Regions from separate parts of the Homo sapiens genome. Here region 1 is linked to region 2. The links come from fine-mapping of genetic effects on gene expression. A gene starts in region 2. The other region holds a variant in brackets. All regions are shown on one strand. Distances are from middle to middle. Region 1 overlaps TRIM6-TRIM34 (TRIM6-TRIM34 readthrough). Region 2 holds the start of TRIM6 (tripartite motif containing 6).

Evidence for each region. PIP is the estimated chance that this variant, and not a neighbour inherited with it, causes the effect. A credible set is the group of variants that fine-mapping cannot tell apart.
Region 1: its variant is the best candidate, but not a certain one, in a credible set for the expression of TRIM6 in fibroblasts (GENCORD, PIP 0.89).

Annotation. Positions count from the first base shown.
Region 1 is chr11:5,630,517-5,638,994 of GRCh38, forward strand. TRIM6-TRIM34 (TRIM6-TRIM34 readthrough) reads left to right here. Exons shown (of 14, transcript NM_001003819.4): 8 at 1,739-2,238; 9 at 3,288-3,383; 10 at 4,115-4,345. TRIM34 (tripartite motif containing 34) reads left to right here. Exons shown (of 8, transcript NM_021616.6): 2 at 1,739-2,238; 3 at 3,288-3,383; 4 at 4,115-4,345. The coding sequence starts at 1,816. It also overlaps a transcript of TRIM5 not described here. Among named protein-coding and RNA genes, the nearest start is that of TRIM34, 9.8 kb to the left of the region's middle. RefSeq lists an enhancer at 1,661-1,900. The variant A/AAT (reference allele first, on the strand shown) is at 3,951.
Region 2 is chr11:5,592,137-5,600,614 of GRCh38, forward strand. It overlaps TRIM6 (tripartite motif containing 6), which reads left to right and starts at 4,501. Exons shown (of 8, transcript NM_001003818.3): 1 at 4,501-4,778. The coding sequence starts at 4,762. TRIM6-TRIM34 (TRIM6-TRIM34 readthrough) reads left to right here and starts at 4,501. Exons shown (of 14, transcript NM_001003819.4): 1 at 4,501-4,778. The coding sequence starts at 4,762. It also overlaps a transcript of TRIM5 not described here. RefSeq lists enhancers at 3,823-4,117, 4,272-5,189, 4,436-4,485, 8,223-8,478.

The sequences.
Region 1 (8,478 bases), 38 kb after region 2:
TATCAGCCACACATTTAAAAACTTTCGAACATGTTATGATGCTATGTCCTCCATGAACGGGGCATTCACTTCCATGATTCCTTCTGCCTAAAATATTTGTTTTCTTTCTCATTCTGTATTCCTTTCTCATTATTCAGCTTTCATTAAACTCTTACTTATCCAAGCAAGATATCTTGGATAGTTCTCTATTTAGCACATTATTTGGTCTTCTAAAAACCTATACCTCTCTATGATGGTGTTTTTTACACCTACCATTTTACATTTTATGAATGATTATATAATTAGCTTCTATCTTCTTAGGTGACTGTTTACTTTATTCTGGCTAATACCATCTGTTCATTACTCAACTTTGGATTTTAATCCATTTCCTGAATTTTAATCACGGAAGATAATATGTCTTCAGTGAGAATTTCCAAAATAAACACATGAATAATTGGCATTCAATTAGTGGATGTGGATTTAACACAGACAGAACTTCATCGCTCCTAAATGTGGTCTCCCTTTATGTATTGGGACATCTCTCTCATGGCCAACAGCCATCTCCTTGCTATTTCTATTCCTCGATGATCTGACATTGGTATGAATCTGTGATCTATGTGTAATTCAGCTGGTTACACCCCTCCCCCAACGAATACACACCTTTGGGTTCCTATCAACCTCTGTAACATCCTTCAGGCCAAGAAGAAATCCTACCATCTACAAACACAAGACCCCCCCAGAAATTCCCAACTTATGTGGTTTCCTCCATTTCTACACTCTCATAACCCTGGATCCCAATCTACTTCTTTCAGGCTTTACCTCGGCTTTTCTTTGTTTAAATAAGTGGAGTAGCATGGAGACCTCTGAAAGAGAACTCTGAGGGTATTATGTTCACTCCAATTCTACCATCGAATTGGGTGATCTTTGTAAATCATTTAATTTTATTTATTCATCTGAAGAAAGGGAGTACTCTTATTTCTCAAGAATTTTGGAAGGAGGAACAAACAGGCCAAAGTGATTTTTAAATTGTAACTGGTAATGAAATCTCCATATTGTGGTCATTGCTGTTTCTGTCGGTATCTCTGGAAAGTCTGTGAGGGCATGGGAGGATTTTGTGTGGGTAGATGTGTTAGGAGGCGAGCACTTCTTCACTGGAAACCACATCTGGGGTTCTAAAGTTCAGCTATTGAAGAATTTCCAAATAATGGAAGGAAGATAATGAAACAATGATAAAGTTTTAGTCATCTGTGGAGAGACAGGGAAGTTTTTTTTATATGTTTATCAAACATTGTGCTTCTCTGTGTTCTAAACACTGAGGCTATAGCAGTAAAAAGACAAAAGTGCCTAATCTACATGTAGATTATGTTTTAGAAAGAAGAGGTGGACATTTAAAAATAGATAATGATAATAAAAGAAAGATGGCAAATGTACACTGAATGATGAGTTTGTGGTTGTGCTGTACTTAAGTTTGTCTTAGCAGCCCTTCTGATGAAGGGACATGTAAGGAGAAAGTTGAAAAAAGTATAAACGAAAGTCATGCAAATAGCAACAGGATGGTAATTCTAGGCTGAGTAATGAACAAGTGCAAAAGCCTTGAGGCATTAACAGCTCGCCCAGACCACTTTCAGCCATTTTTGGTTTCTCTTCCTCATCTTCTTTGTTCTTTGATATTGCAGTCTCGGCCAGTCTTTATTGTCTGTGCAATTAGAATGCTTTTTATTTGTACCATTCTTATACCATCCCCTTTCAATCTTCTCAGCCATCCAGGGGTCTTTAACCAGAAGAGAGAGGAGAGCCTCAGGAGTTAGGACCAGAAGAAGCCAGGGAAGCAGTGCAATGGCTTCAAAAATCTTGCTTAACGTACAAGAGGAGGTGACCTGTCCCATCTGCCTGGAGCTGTTGACAGAACCCTTGAGTCTAGACTGTGGCCACAGCCTCTGCCGAGCCTGCATCACTGTGAGCAACAAGGAGGCAGTGACCAGCATGGGAGGAAAAAGCAGCTGTCCTGTGTGTGGTATCAGTTACTCATTTGAACATCTACAGGCTAATCAGCATCTGGCCAACATAGTGGAGAGACTCAAGGAGGTCAAGTTGAGCCCAGACAATGGGAAGAAGAGAGATCTCTGTGATCATCATGGAGAGAAACTCCTACTCTTCTGTAAGGAGGATAGGAAAGTCATTTGCTGGCTTTGTGAGCGGTCTCAGGAGCACCGTGGTCACCACACAGTCCTCACGGAGGAAGTATTCAAGGAATGTCAGGTAGGGCCCTAGATGGAGGGAGATGGGGCAGAAGATGGTAGTTGGTGGAAAATCTCACCTTTTCATCCTTTTTTTTTTTTTTTTTTTTTTGAGACAGAGTCTCACTCTGTCGCCCAGGCTGGAGTGCAGTGGCGTGCTCTCGGCTCACTGCAACCTCTGCCCTCTGAGTTCAAGTAATTTTCCTGCCTCAGCCTCCCAAGTAGCTCGGATTACAGGCGCCTGCCACCGCGCCTGGCTAATTTTTTTTTTTTTTTTTTGGATTTTTAGTAGAGACGGGATTTCACCATCTTGGCCAGGCTGGTCTTGAACTCCTAATCTTGTGATCCACCCACCTCGGCCTCCCAAAGTGCTGGGATTACAGGTGTGAGCCACCATGCCCGGCCTTTTCTTTCTTTTTTTTTTTTTTTTTTTGTGAGCAATAAAGCTTTTTAATCACCTGGGTGCAGGCGGACTGAGTCTGAAAAAGGAGTCAGCCCTTTTCATCCTTCTTTACCCCCTGTGGAACCATAATTCTGAGTCCCGTGATCTTCTCCATGTACATCTTTCACACTGTGCTCAGCTTCCAATGCCTGGGGTACACTCTTGTGTATTCCTTTCATTTACATAACAGATGATCCTAGAGTACAGTCTCTTAGCCAAGAATGAGAAATTTTTGTCTTGTTTTTTCCTTTTTCATTGTATAAGTGATAAATTCCTTCCCAAAGTTAGCTCTCTTGCTTCTCTAAGCAGGATAATTGCTAAGGAACATTGTGGATTGAATGAGGAAAGAGCATTGATAAGAGGAAAGGACTTTCTGCAGGGTAAATACTTACTCTAAGGAAAGACAGAATCAGGCTACTCCTTTTGAGGGGTATTGATTTTCATCACAATGAATGAACAATACATTCATCTCCTCAAAATTTTCCCCATGTCATAGATTCTAATCACCAGCTTCACAGTTTCTGTAAATTGCTTTTTTCTGGGATCAACTTGATTTTTTCCCTGTTTGTCCTCTATCCAGATACTAAGAAAGCTTATAGCTTGACTGTAGTGTGATTCCCTTCTCATAGGAGAAACTCCAGGCAGTCCTCAAGAGGCTGAAGAAGGAAGAGGAGGAAGCTGAGAAGCTGGAAGCTGACATCAGAGAAGAGAAAACTTCCTGGAAGGCAAGAGGAGATTCTGAAGGTTTTCTGAGACAGGAATCTTGACAGGACCTTAATCCAAGGAGGCCTCGTCCTTTTTATTCCTTGACATTGCATGAGTCCTGAAGCCATTTGATTAGTTCTCTTCTCTGTCCTGTCCCTGTTGGGGGTGGAGGCTAGAAAGTGGACATGTTACAATTACACATACATACCTGGAACTGAGCACAAAGATAGACTCTATGATGAGGAAGGCTAGCAAATACTGTGTTCCATTGCTCTTTTCCAACGGGGCTCTACTACTTCTGGTGGAAGACACTACATAAAGGACTATGGTTTTCCTCAAGATTCAAATTAGGAGTGTGGTAAGGCAGGCAGTCATGAATATCCAGGAAAGCTATCTAGAAGCTAAGCCTTATGTTTTATATTTTGTCTCAGGGTTGGCCTAGATAAGACAGTTTGAGGTCATTGTTTTGGTAGGTACTGAAAGGAAAATAGTAGGAAAAAATAGCTTCCCTCCAAGTACCTCTATTGCTTCTACTCCCTTGCTGATTTGAACTCCCTGAAAAAAAAAATCGATATATAGATAATACA[A/AAT]ATATATATATACAGATAATATAAATACACACACACACACACACACACACACACACACACACACATATATATATATATATATTTCCCTACTGGCTCCTAATCCCTTGCACAATAGGCCTTAGCCTGACAAACTTACTACAACTCTCTCTTGTCCATCCTTGCAGTATCAGGTACAAACTGAGAGACAAAGGATACAAACAGAATTTGATCAGCTTAGAAGCATCCTAAATAATGAGGAGCAGAGAGAGCTGCAAAGATTGGAAGAAGAAGAAAAGAAGACGCTGGATAAGTTTGCAGAGGCTGAGGATGAGCTAGTTCAGCAGAAGCAGTTGGTGAGAGAGCTCATCTCAGATGTGGAGTGTCGGAGTCAGTGGTCAACAATGGAGCTGCTGCAGGTAAGAAGGTTCGCTCAATCTGAGATTCTGGGAACACAGTTCCCTCCTGTGTCCTTGCGTTCTCATCCTGGTGGTGACACTAAGGGGTTTCTTTGGCCTTGCAGTGCCGCCTTGTCGTCCATTCTAGATGTCATGGACATGAATGACATTTTTATTAATTTATGAAGTAAGGGAATACATTTTACCTTGCAGAAAAGATCCATTATATCTAGTTATAGTCTCTAGGCCCCTATTATATGTGATCTAGTGTCAAGCATTCATCAGACTTCTCTTTACTCTGGTTAGTCACAGGTAAACACATGCATTTTCAGGTTTAAGAGCATACACATTTAAGAAATGTGTTCTATTTAAGTTTAAAATATGCTTATTTGTTATGCAAATGTTCCCTGTTAATTTTTTTTTTTTTTTTTTTGAGACGGAGTCTCGCTCTGTCTCCCAGGCTGGAGTGCAGTGGTGCGATCTCGGCTCACTGCAAGCTCCGCCTCCCAGGTTCACGCCATTCTCCTGCCCAGCATCCCGAGTAGCTGGGACTACAGGCACCCACCACCACGTCTGGCTAATTTTTTTTGTATTTTTAGTAAACATGGGGTTTCACCGTGCTAGCCAGTATGGTATTAATCTCCTGACCTCGTGGTCCGCCTGCCTCGGCCTTCCAAAATGCTGGGATTACAGGCCTGACCCACCGCACCCAGCCCCCTGTTACTTTTTTTTAAACATAAAGTGATAGAATATTGAGCCTTTTGGGGAGAAAGATGGACAAATATATAGACAGACAGTGCTCTCCTTTCTTTGCTGAATTTCCAAATATTTCCTTTTTAAGATTTGGAACGAAGCAGGAGAGTAACTGATTTTCATTTGTTGAATTGTTTGCTTTGTCTCTGGTGCTTATATCCCAGCTTTTTTTAAATTCCTTTTTCCTTTTGTCTTCTTTTTTTGTTTAAATTTAAGATTACTCTGGAACAGAGGTTCCTAAACGTATTTTACACTCATTAGTATGGCTATAATAAAAAAAGATGGACAATACCAAGTGTTTGGGAAGATGTGAAGAAATTGAAACCTTCTTGAATTGCTAGTAGAGATGTAAAATAGTAAAGCTACTTAGGAAAAACTGCTTGGCAGTTGCTCAGAAATGTAAAGAGAGTTCTCATGTGGCCTAGCCATTCCATTCCTACCTATATACCTAGAAGAACTGAATACATATATTTGTGCATAAACTTATATATGAAAGTTCACAGCAGTATTGTTCATAAATAAAACAACTCGTATCTCCTTAAACTGATGATTGGATAAGCAAAATGTGTTATATCCAAACAATGTAATATTGTTTAGCTGTGAAAAATAATGAATTAATAATACATGCTATGACATGGATGCACCTTGAAAACATTATAATTGAAAGAAGGCAAACACAAGTTCTTTTTTGTATGATTCCATTTATATGAAAGTCTGTAAGTAGCAAATCCGTAATATAGAAACTAGATTAGTGGTTGCCAGAGCTCTGGGGAAGAATAGGAAGTAATTGCTAATTAGTGTACAATTTCTATTTGTAGTGATGAAAATGATCTGGATTTACTGTGCAATGACGGTTGCACTACATCGTGAATATTTTAAAGCCTGTTAAATTGTGCACTGTAAAGGGCAAATCTTATGGTATTTGAACTACATCTCAGTAAAAACAAAAACAAAAAGGTTCCGTAGGCCCTTTTTTATGGTTCTTCCTTAAGCTCTTCACAACCCTTTGAATCGCCACCTTCACAAAAGAACACTGTGTTTATGTCATTTGTCCAGGCATTTGTCCTATTTCAGTCAGTCTTAGTTGCTATTTGGTCACTTGGAATTTAAAAAAATATTGGTAGATCAAAAATTATAAATGCTGTGGGATTAACATTTCACTTCTAGATGTTAGCTTCAAAGAATGGCAAATGGAAAACTTAGGAACTTATTCTTTTATCTGAGTAGGGACTTTGGCTATTCCTCTCCAATATGTTAAGATATAATCTGTTGGCGGGGCGCGGTGGCTCACGCCTGTAATCCCAGCACTTTGGGAGGCCGAGGTGGGTGGATCACGAGGTCAGGAGATCGAGATCATCCTGGCTAACACAGTGAAACCCCGTCTCTACTAAAAATACAAAAAATTAGCCGGGCATTTTATAATATACAAAAAATTAGCTGGTGATGGCGGCTGCCTGTAGTCCCAGCTACTCAGGAGGCTGAGGCAGGAGAATGGTGTGAACCCAGGAGGCGGAGCTTGCAGTGAGCCAAGATGGCGCCACTGCACTCCAGCCTGGGCGACAGAGCGAGACTCAGTCTAAAAAAAAAAGATATGTGCTGTTGTATTTGTGGTATGTCTCCTCCACAATCCCATCTCCTGAGAGTCCCTGTAACAGCTTTCTTTCTATATGGATTCTCATGATGGCGATCGGGATGGATGGTGTTATCATATATCCATTGTTTGTTTGCTAGAGGGACTGATACTCATTTCGTAAGAGCTGCATTCAACACTTACTGCCAAAGAACGATCTAGACAGAAAGACGCTCAACTTGAAAACTGATGCAAAAATTAGATGAGATTTTAGGTTGTTTCCCTTATAAAGGAGATACTTTGATTTTTAATGCTTTCTGTAATAGTTTTATTATATTTGGCCATTTTTATTTTTGAAAGGATGGAATGGTAGGTAGCTAAATGAGGGAAAGAAGATGGCAGTTACTATTATTTAAAATTTTTTTTCCAGGTTTCTTAAAATTTTAGATTCAGGGGGCACATTCAATTCCATGGCATTTAGTACATTCAGATTGCTGTGCAACCATTAAGTGGGATCCCTCTCTGGACTTTTTCACCATCCCAAACTGAAACTGTACCCATTAAAAAACAGCTCCCCATTCCCTTTGGTCACCACTGCTCTACTTTGATAACCACTATTCTACTTTCTGTCTCTATGACTTTGCCTATTCTAAGTACCTCATGTAAGTGGAATCATAGAATATTTGTCCTACAGGTTTCTTATAAGGGTCTGTTGCATAATGCTAGGGTTTGGGCTACATGGTACTCATTATTTTTGTTTCGTCAATATCCATTCCCCATTTTTCTGGTAATAACACCTGGAATTACTCTTGCAAGAAAGACTAGCATGTCTATTTCCATCCTTGTACTTGTTTAGACCTGAGAAAATCAGCACTATCAAGAATGAATGAGTTAATTATATGTAAATCAGCGTATCCAATCCTTACATCCCTACCAGCCACACAGTGATTATTTTAAGTTGGACATCTGACCCAATCCTGAATGCTTGTGGGTGACAAAATTGTACTGTCATTGCAGTGAAGGGAAGTTCTCCTTTTTAGCAGAAAATAATATCAGTGAAGATAATTCAAATAAAGAGATTCAAGTTGCTATCAACTAAAATCTGAGAATACAGTCAAAATATAGGGAAGAAATGAGAATTAATAGGCACAGAGAGGCCAGAATTGTGACAGAGGTTTGAGCTTCCAGAGCCATCTGTGACTAAAGTAATACCTCTCTGGCCACAACCCTTACTTTCTTCCCAGTTAAGGCAATTTTAGTTGTTGAACAACAAAACTATGCTAATACAGAGAGCAAAACCATTTATTTGGTTGTACACCAGCTGGTGTCATGAAAGAGTTAAAGCCAAATATATTGGTACATCTTGCTCAAAACAAATTAACCCACAGTGGTGATGATGGGGGAATGCAGATGACTAACAGAAGTTAAGGATGGACTGGCTTGATAAAATGTTTTAGTGTCTGGGACAGGGACTGAGTGAATATTGATACCAGTTTGACAATACGGCATAAGAAAGGAAACAATATGGCTGGAGAACAGCTTATGTTTTAGATATTCTTAGTTACTGGTGCCGTTTTTTCTTCTTTGTGGAATGTAGTATTGTACCTGTACAGAATGAAGTCTAGCTGCTTTTTTTCACAGTCCAATGAGATGCAGACAGACTTGGAAAAGAAGGGAGTTTATTTTTGCAACTGGTTACAGGGAGAAGGTCAGAGTAACTATCAGACCAACTCAGAGTTACAAAGTTTTTTTTTTCTGGTGCTTATATACATTTTAAGCTCTATGCCTTCACGTGGGAGTGCACCTACATGCAGGAGTGTTTCAATCTATA
Region 2 (8,478 bases):
ACAAAAAGCTATATTTAAGTGACTAGCTTGATTTTCTTCAAATTGACTAGAATGTGAATATATGCACAGCAAAATTCATGTTTTATTCATCGGTATTACTCCAGAGCCCTGCCAAATGCTTGGTACTTCATTATAGTTAATAATGCTACCTATCACTCACTGACGAGCTATTGTGTTTCAGGGACTGTCCTAAGTACTCCACATATACTTGCATATTTAGTCTTCACAATAACTCTATGCAGTAGGTATTTTACAGATAGGGAAACTGAGGCCCAAGAGAGGTTAAGTAACTTGCCCCAAATCATACAGATGGTAAGTAAATGAGCTAGGATCTGAATCTTGGCAAAACTGGTTCCAGAGTCCATCATCTTAAATACCATCTTAAATACCGTGCTATATGACATATATAGTTTAATATGTGTCTGCTGAAAAGAAAGAACAAAACAAATTTTTAAAAAGAAGGAAGGAAGAAAATATAAAATATCAAAGGAAAGATGGGGCCAGGCGTGGTGGCTCACACCTGTAATCCCAGCACTTTGGGAGACTGAAGTGGGTGGATCGCTTGAGTCCAGGAGTTTGAGATCAGCCTGGGCAACATAATGAAATCCTGTCTCTACAAAATACACAAAAATTTACCCGGCACGGTGGTGTATGCCCTTAGTCTCAGCTACTTGAGAGGCTGAAGTGGGAAGATCACTTGAGCCCGAGAGTTTGTGGCTGAAGTGAGCTGAGATTGTGCTACTACATGCCAGCCTGGGCAACAGAGTGAGATTGTCTCAAAAAAAAAAAAAAAAGAAAAAAGAAAAAGAAAAAAGAAGAAAAAATGAGAGGAAAGTAGGGAAAACAAGAAGGATGGAAAAAAGAGAGGGAGGAAAGGACCAAAAAAATGCATTAATTAGGTCCATGTTTGATGATCAGAAGCATCTGAAAACAAAATTGGTGGCTTGTTTCTCCTACATCCCTAAGCCTCTGGAACAAGAGGTGTTTCTCCCTGAAATTTGTTTTCATTTGGTTTTACTGAAGTTCTTCCTGTAATCAGATGTTAACAATTATCTTTCAGAAAATCCAGTTAGGCCTATCCTGAATTCTCAAGCATAAACTACCCTGATTCTTAATCTTAGCCTTGCAATATCTACTTTTTTCTTTTCTTTTGTTCCCATCAGCTCCCAGCTGGTAGTAATGAGTTAAGAAGGGTTTTCCATGAGAGGGGCAGAAACATTTCTGACAACAGGAATCATCTAACACTGCTTTCAAACAAGTTGTACTGAAAAAATATACTAGAGATTTTTTTCACAGGAAGTCTCTCTCCTGTGAATATATTAGAGATTTCCTCAAAGAAAATATATTCGAGCATATTAGAGATTTGCTCACAGAAAATCTATCTCCTGAGTTTGTATTTTTTTTATCACTATTTGGCTATGAGAATATTCTGTGACCCTTGTCATGGTCCTGTTTGCTTTTCCTGAAACCTCTTTCCTATCAAATGTTAATATCCACTTATTGCTATTAAGAAATCTTGACACCTCAACCTGTGCACTAAACAATATTCCTGGTATATACTGAGTATTTAATATTGAGTATTGTAATAATAACAGGCTGGCTCTGTTGATACCACCCTGAGTCTAGAACTGCAGCAGTGGGTCCTGAGTCTAGAACTGCAAGTACTCTGAGTATTCAGGAACTTGGGGCTGTCAGCAAATCTGTGCCCTCTTTACCTTCAAACCTGTCCTACTGGATGCATCATATTACCCCACCAAACCTCTGGATCCCACATACTTGGTTCCCTTTTAACACTAACAGTATTCCACTGTATTGGGTATACCACTTGTTTTTCAATACATTTAATACTTGATGAACAGTTGGGTTGATTCCATTTTTTAATATGAGTAAAACTGCTATGGACATTTGTGTACAAATCTTTGCACGGATATGTTTTCATTTCTTTTGAGTAGATTCCTACGAGTGGATTTGATGGATTATGTGGTAAATTTATATCTAACTTTTCGAGACCCCTTGAATTATTGCCAAGTACCTTCATTTCTTCTCAACCGTCAGAATGCCCAATCTCCCTGTTCAAGATGAGAAATTATAGAGAAAATAAAAACTGCCTTGGTTAGCAAACAAAAAGGAAAAATTCTGCACACTGAGAAACAGTCTTTCATTCTGTTTTTTGTTTTCTTTTTTGTTTTGAGACTGATTATCACTGTGTTGCCCAGGCTAGAGAGCAGTAGCAGGATCATGGCTCACTGCAGCCTCAACCTTCCGGGCTCAAGTGATCCTCCCACCTCTCAGCCTCCCAAGTAATTGGGACTACAGGCACGTACCGCTATGCCTGGCAATTTACTTATTTTTTTTAGACAGGGTCTTACTATGTTGCCCAGGTTGGCCTCAAAATTGTGGATTCAAGCTATCCTTCCACCTCGGCCTCCCAAAATGCTGGGATTACAAGCGAGCCAACATGCCCAGCCAACATCCTTTTTTTTTAACTGAGCCTACTAGCCCCAGAAATGAAGCCCTATGCTGACAAGACTATGGAGCCTGTAAGTTACTTCCATTTATATCAGCTCTTAGAAAATGGCCTGAGAAGGGACTCTGGGTTGGGCTTCTCCATCCCTTTTCCAATATTTCTAACCCTCTGGGTGTCAATCATACCATTTTGTATTCCAAGGGACTTAAATGTTGGCTGGGCCAGTGGCAGGGTGGTGTCCATACTGGGCAGTTTGGGTGGGGTCAGGAGAATTTCAGAGCATAAGCAGGCTTTGACCTGAAGCGTCATCCAGGGGCAATATGGAGGCAGCCATACCTAAAACCGTTGTGAAGAAAGCTACACAAAGGGTGATCTGAAATAACCTTTGCGTGGCTTCTTAAGCCTGCAGACATGAGGTAGTCACTGAAATAGTGACACATGTCTGCACTTACGAGATTCCAATGACCTTTCATTTGCCTGGGGACTGTCCAGAGAAATCTCTTGATACTTAACCCAGCTCTCTCCCTACTGCCCAATCCTCCGTCCAGACTTTTGTATGGACACCCCAGTCCCTTCTCTCTCTATACCTCCCTCCCCAAGCCACCTTCTAAGGCAAGGTGATACTCACCTAATCAGTCTCCTTAGGGAGGAACTTTGACATTCTTTTTCTTCTCAGAGTTTCTGTGCTATTGAAACCCTGTAGTTAGAGTTCTGAGGCTCAATAAGCTTTACATGTATTCATCAGACCTAAATAAAAACAAAGATTGTCTTCTAGTTATATAGGTCAAAATTACAGATACACACACACAGCTTTATACATACATACGTGTAATTTTAAACTGATGAATTTTAATGATCGTTTGGCAAAACATGCCATTATGCAAAGGGGCTTTTACTCGTATAACTTTATATGTTTATTTAGACATTTTAATTAATACGTCTATATGGAGTACAGGTGTATTATCAGTGTAATTAAACTCTGATATGATATTAGAAAGCTACAGTACACTGCAGACAATTTACAAGGGTCATCTCTGGCCTGGTGTTCTCAAAGGCCTCCGGATTTGCCGTTCATCAGGTAAGATGAACAGCTTTGCGTTGCTACCTTCAAAAATTCTTTTTTTTTTTTTTTGAGAGAGAGTCTCGCTCTGTCTCCAGGCTGGAGTGCAACCTCCACCTCCCGGGTTCAAGCGATTCTCCTGCCTCAGCCTCCCGAGTAGCTAGGACCACAGGCGCGCCCAGCTAATTTCTGTATTTTTAGTAGAGACAGGGTTTCATCATGTTGGCCGGGATGGTCTCAATCTCCTGACCTCGTTATCCGCCCGCCTCGGCCTCCCAAAGTGCTGGGATTACAGGGGTGAACCACCGCGCCTGGCCTCAGAAACCATCTCCATCTCCCTTACCACCTGAGGGGTCACTGGTGACCACACCCATGGAATCGGCTGGATCTCCTGCGGGGCTGGACAATTTGACCCTCCTCCTCCCCAGGCCCCGCCCCTTCCCCCCTGAGTCTTTCGGCCTGGGTGGAGGACGCGGCTGCTTCAAGTCCTTGGCTCTGATCCAGGCCACAGATTCCAGGTTAGTGAGCAAGTTTATTTTCTGGCCAGCTACCGCTGTCCCCACTTGTCTGGAGAGTTTGACCCGCTCTGCAGGTCGGGTTGGGGGTGGTTCACGGGTGAAAGAAGAATGAGGGAGACTTCTGCATTTTCAAGTGAACTCAAGTTTGGGAAGGGAGCACAGAAGAGGCACCTTTGCAGCTGGGAATAGGCCGTGTAAAGAGAGTTAAACCTCTATTCTACAAGCTGAAGTATGTAGAGGAGGCAGCTCTGGAAACTGCTTTAGGGAATCACTGCAAACCATTTTGTCAGGCGTGGATTCAGAGTCAGCATCCCTTCCCCCCTTCCCCCGTTCTCCCCTTCCCCCCTTCCCCCTTCCCCCTTCCCCCTTCCCCCTTCCCCTCCCCCATCTCCAGCCTGGCCGCTCCAGGAAGTGAGCACCGTTTATCCCCCACCCCAGGCGGCCCGACTCCTCCCAGAAGGAGTTGGGAGATGAGCCTTCCGCAAACTCCTGACCTGTGGGTCCGTCCGTTCAACGGCCAAAGGCTGGCGGAGGAGGGATCCCCTGCCTTTCTCGGAACGGAACGGAGCAGAGTCGTGCGTGGTTGAGTTTAGATAAAAGCCGAGTGAGCGCGCTCTGTTCCTTAAGATTAGTTTAAGGTGCCTTGGATTGCTCTGAAGAGCTTTGACCACCTGATATTGCTTACATCTGGAACTTCTTGGCTTCTCATTCCCCAGATGTGCGGGTCAGAGAGGTATGTCTACCGTTCTGTTGACTGGCTCTTATTGTCACTTCTGGCAGAGGTGACAGGGCAGTGAAAGAGATAAGGTCCTTTCCCTTTCGGAACTCATTATATCTTTATTTCTTTTTCTTTCTCACTGCAAATGACCCCACTGAGGTTAGAGACATTTTAATCAGTCAGTCAATAGAGACAGAAATGTGTGGTTAGGAGCATAGATGCCGCAGCCAGACTGCATGTGTTCAAATCCTGACTCTGACAGACACTGGCTGTGTGCCCGAAGACTGTTAACTTGACTTCTTTGAGCTTTAGTTTCTTCCATCTATAAGATGGACGGAGTAATATGTATATCTTAGAGTTTTGGTGAGGATTGAGTGAGACAGATTTAAACACGTAGGAGGCTGCCTGACACAAATTATGGTCATTATTACTGGCAAACTCCATGCCTAGCTTTAAAAAAATGCACAATCAAAACAATTTTTAAATTATAGGTTTCTGAAATGCAGGGGGTAGAAATTCTTTTGAAGTGGAAATTAAATTTTTTGTTTTGAAACTGATTATGTTCCAATTCAAATATTTATTGAGTCCTGTTAGATAATCAATTGCAGATAATAGGTTAAATATAACCCTACACAAAGATAAAAAAAAATGTTATTCCTAAAGTGCAAGAACTCATGCCCAACTCACTTATAAATGCAACTGCCACCTATTTTATTCCACTTTCACTAGGGCTCCCAGCTGGTGGACGGGCCCGCTCTGTCATTCCTAACTCTGAACCCCCAGCCTACACCAGCCCCAGTATCCCCTGCTGAGTCACTGATTTTTATTCTGAAAGCCATTTTGATATCGATGCAAGCTTCCATTCTAAAAGATGCTTCGTATCTAAATAGCAGGCCATTCTCTGTCCCCCTCCCTCTTCTAGCTGTTTTGCACCCTAAATTGTATCCACCTGGGAAAGAAGGTCCTTTATCTAAGGCAGTGCTTCTGAAGCCTTAATGTGCGTAAGAATCACCTAGAGAACTTTAATATTAAAGTGCAGATTCTGAATCATTCCAGGAAAGACTGAGATTCTGCATAAAGAACTCCAAGTGCTTGCAGTGTTGCTAGTTAGCAGACCTTTTTCAGGCGTCTGGTTCTGATTTAATTGGTCCCACCTGGTTGTGAATTTGGGCTCTTTCTTCTGCTAATTTGATGCACTGGGCTCTGGGACTGCAGGCTCTTCTCGTCTGCACTCCTCACAGTCAGAATGCCTTCTCTCAGCCCGTCCACACTGCTCTGGAGACTTGGCCTCAGTTGGAAACTGGCAGCCTCCCATATCTCCCTTGGGCTGCACTTAGCTGCAGTGGGCAGTCAGGGCTTGCTGGTGTGTGGGCAAGGGTCACCTATGCTAACTGTATGCTCCCCTCCTTCACAATTTCTTTCCCAAGCCTCAGCTTTGACAAGAGACCTCAACTCTTACAAATCTTTTTTCTGCTCAAGAATTTTTCTCTGTCTAAAGAGAGTATTAGATGAATATCTACAGCGCATATTAGATAGGAAAAAGACATATAATGAACTAGAAATAGAATGAAGCCACATATGTAATGTTACATACTCAAGTAGCCTCATTAAAAATAAGCGGGTGAAATTAATTTTAATACATTTCATTTAACCCAATACATGCAAAATACAATTAGGACATGTGATCAACATAAAAAAATTAATAAGATCCTTTAACTTTTTTAAACTAAATCTTCAAAATCCAATGTGTATTTTGTACCTAAAGCAACCCATTTCTGAGTAGCCACACTTCAAATGCTCAAGAGCCATATCTGGCTACATGTTTGACAACACAGTTCCATTATGCTTAGAAGATCAGAAACCAAGCTTTTAATTTTTCTTGTATTTTTTTGTTTCTGTCAGTTTATTGAGTTCTATCTAGTAAGTTACAAATTGTAAGCATACAGTTCTGTGAATTTTCACAGTTGCAGTCAGCTGTGTAACCACCACCATGATCATGATACATAAAGGGCATTTCCCTTTATGTATTCACCCTTCAAATTTCCTTATGCCCTTTGCAGTTCAAACTTTTCTCCCACTCCTGGGCCCTGGCTTCCACTGATGTACTTTCAAATACCATAGCTTTCTCTTTTCTAGGATTTCACATAAATAGCATCATACAATAACTTAAATTTGATGTTTGGGTTCTTTCACTTTGCATGCTTTTGAGATTTATCTTGTTGTATATATTAACAGTTTAATTGTTTGGTAATATGCCACTGTATGGATACACCACAGTTTGTTCATTTACCAGTTAGTGATGTCATGGATTCTTTTCAGTTTGGGACTATTACTACATTGCATTTATGAGGCAGTAGTTCTCCTTCAAGAGAATTGGGTACGCTAAATACAGTTTTGCCTGAAATGAAAGTGTGCATGTGTTTGTTGGGGAGGATGAATTGGAATTGGACTTTCAATTAAAATATAATACCAATACAATTATTATATTTATTTATTTATTTATTTATTTATTTATTTATTTTGAGACGGAGTCTCGCTCTGTCGCCCAGGCTGGAGTGCAGTGGCACGATCTCGACTCACTGCAAGCTCCACCTTCCGGGTTCACGCCATTCTCCTGCCTCAGCCTCCCGAGTAGCTGGGACTACAGGCATCCGCCACTACACCCAGCTAAATTTTTGTATTTTTAGTAGAGACAGGGTTTCACCGTGTTAGCCAGGATGGTCTCGATCTCCTGACCTTGTGATCCGCCTGCCTCAGCCTCCCAAAGTGCTGGGATTACAGGCTTGGGCCACCGCGCCCGGCCAACACAATTATTTTTTAACAGTAACACTTTGATAAGATAGCACATTTATTTCTATACTCTAGTGCCAACATCAAGGCCAACTATAAGCTCAGCAGTAAGCTATAATTTTCAATCCATTATAAAGTTAATTGATCATTTCCTGTGTTAGCTGCAGTGCTAAGGTCTGGGGCACCTGGAAGATAAATAGAGCCTCTATTGCCTCTAGAGCCTCTATTGCCTCTATTATCAAAGGCAATAGAGCCTTATAGTGCAGTGTGCTAAGTGAGATGATGTGGGTATGGTAGGAGATATTAACAAAGGAAATAATAGTGCAGTTCCCACAGGTGTGATTAATTTGGTTAAACAGACTCTCAGATGATAGGTAAATACGTCTGTAACACCAATTAGTACTACCAGTTAGATGCACAGAGTTCATTAATTTGTTAATTATATTTTGCACCCTTTATGGAGATGAGGAATATAAGGGAGTAATAAGAGCTCCAGCTCTGCAGCCTGCGTATCTGCATTCAACACCGGCCCCGCCACTTGAAAGATCTACTAAATACCAGTTTATACAACTATGAGATGAGATTTAAGGGACATTCATAATGTTGTTATGTGGAATTATTGAGTTATTATGTACAAAATAATTAAATTCTTGCTGAATACCTAATGGGCTTTCTGTAGATATTTGCTGTGAGCATCGCTGCTGCTAAGCATGGCAAAGCTGAAGAGCCAGGCTAGTACTTGCAGAAGCACCACAGAACACTAGATGGCAGCGCCAAGAACCTGTTTTCGGCTCGCTAGATCCCCCAGCAGGGCCGCTAGGAGGCTTATGCTTACATCCCATGACTTTTTCTTACCCTTATCTGAGACACTTTCTCAGGCCCTTTCTTCTAAGGGGAGTGTTGTTATTGGGAGGCAGTTTGATAT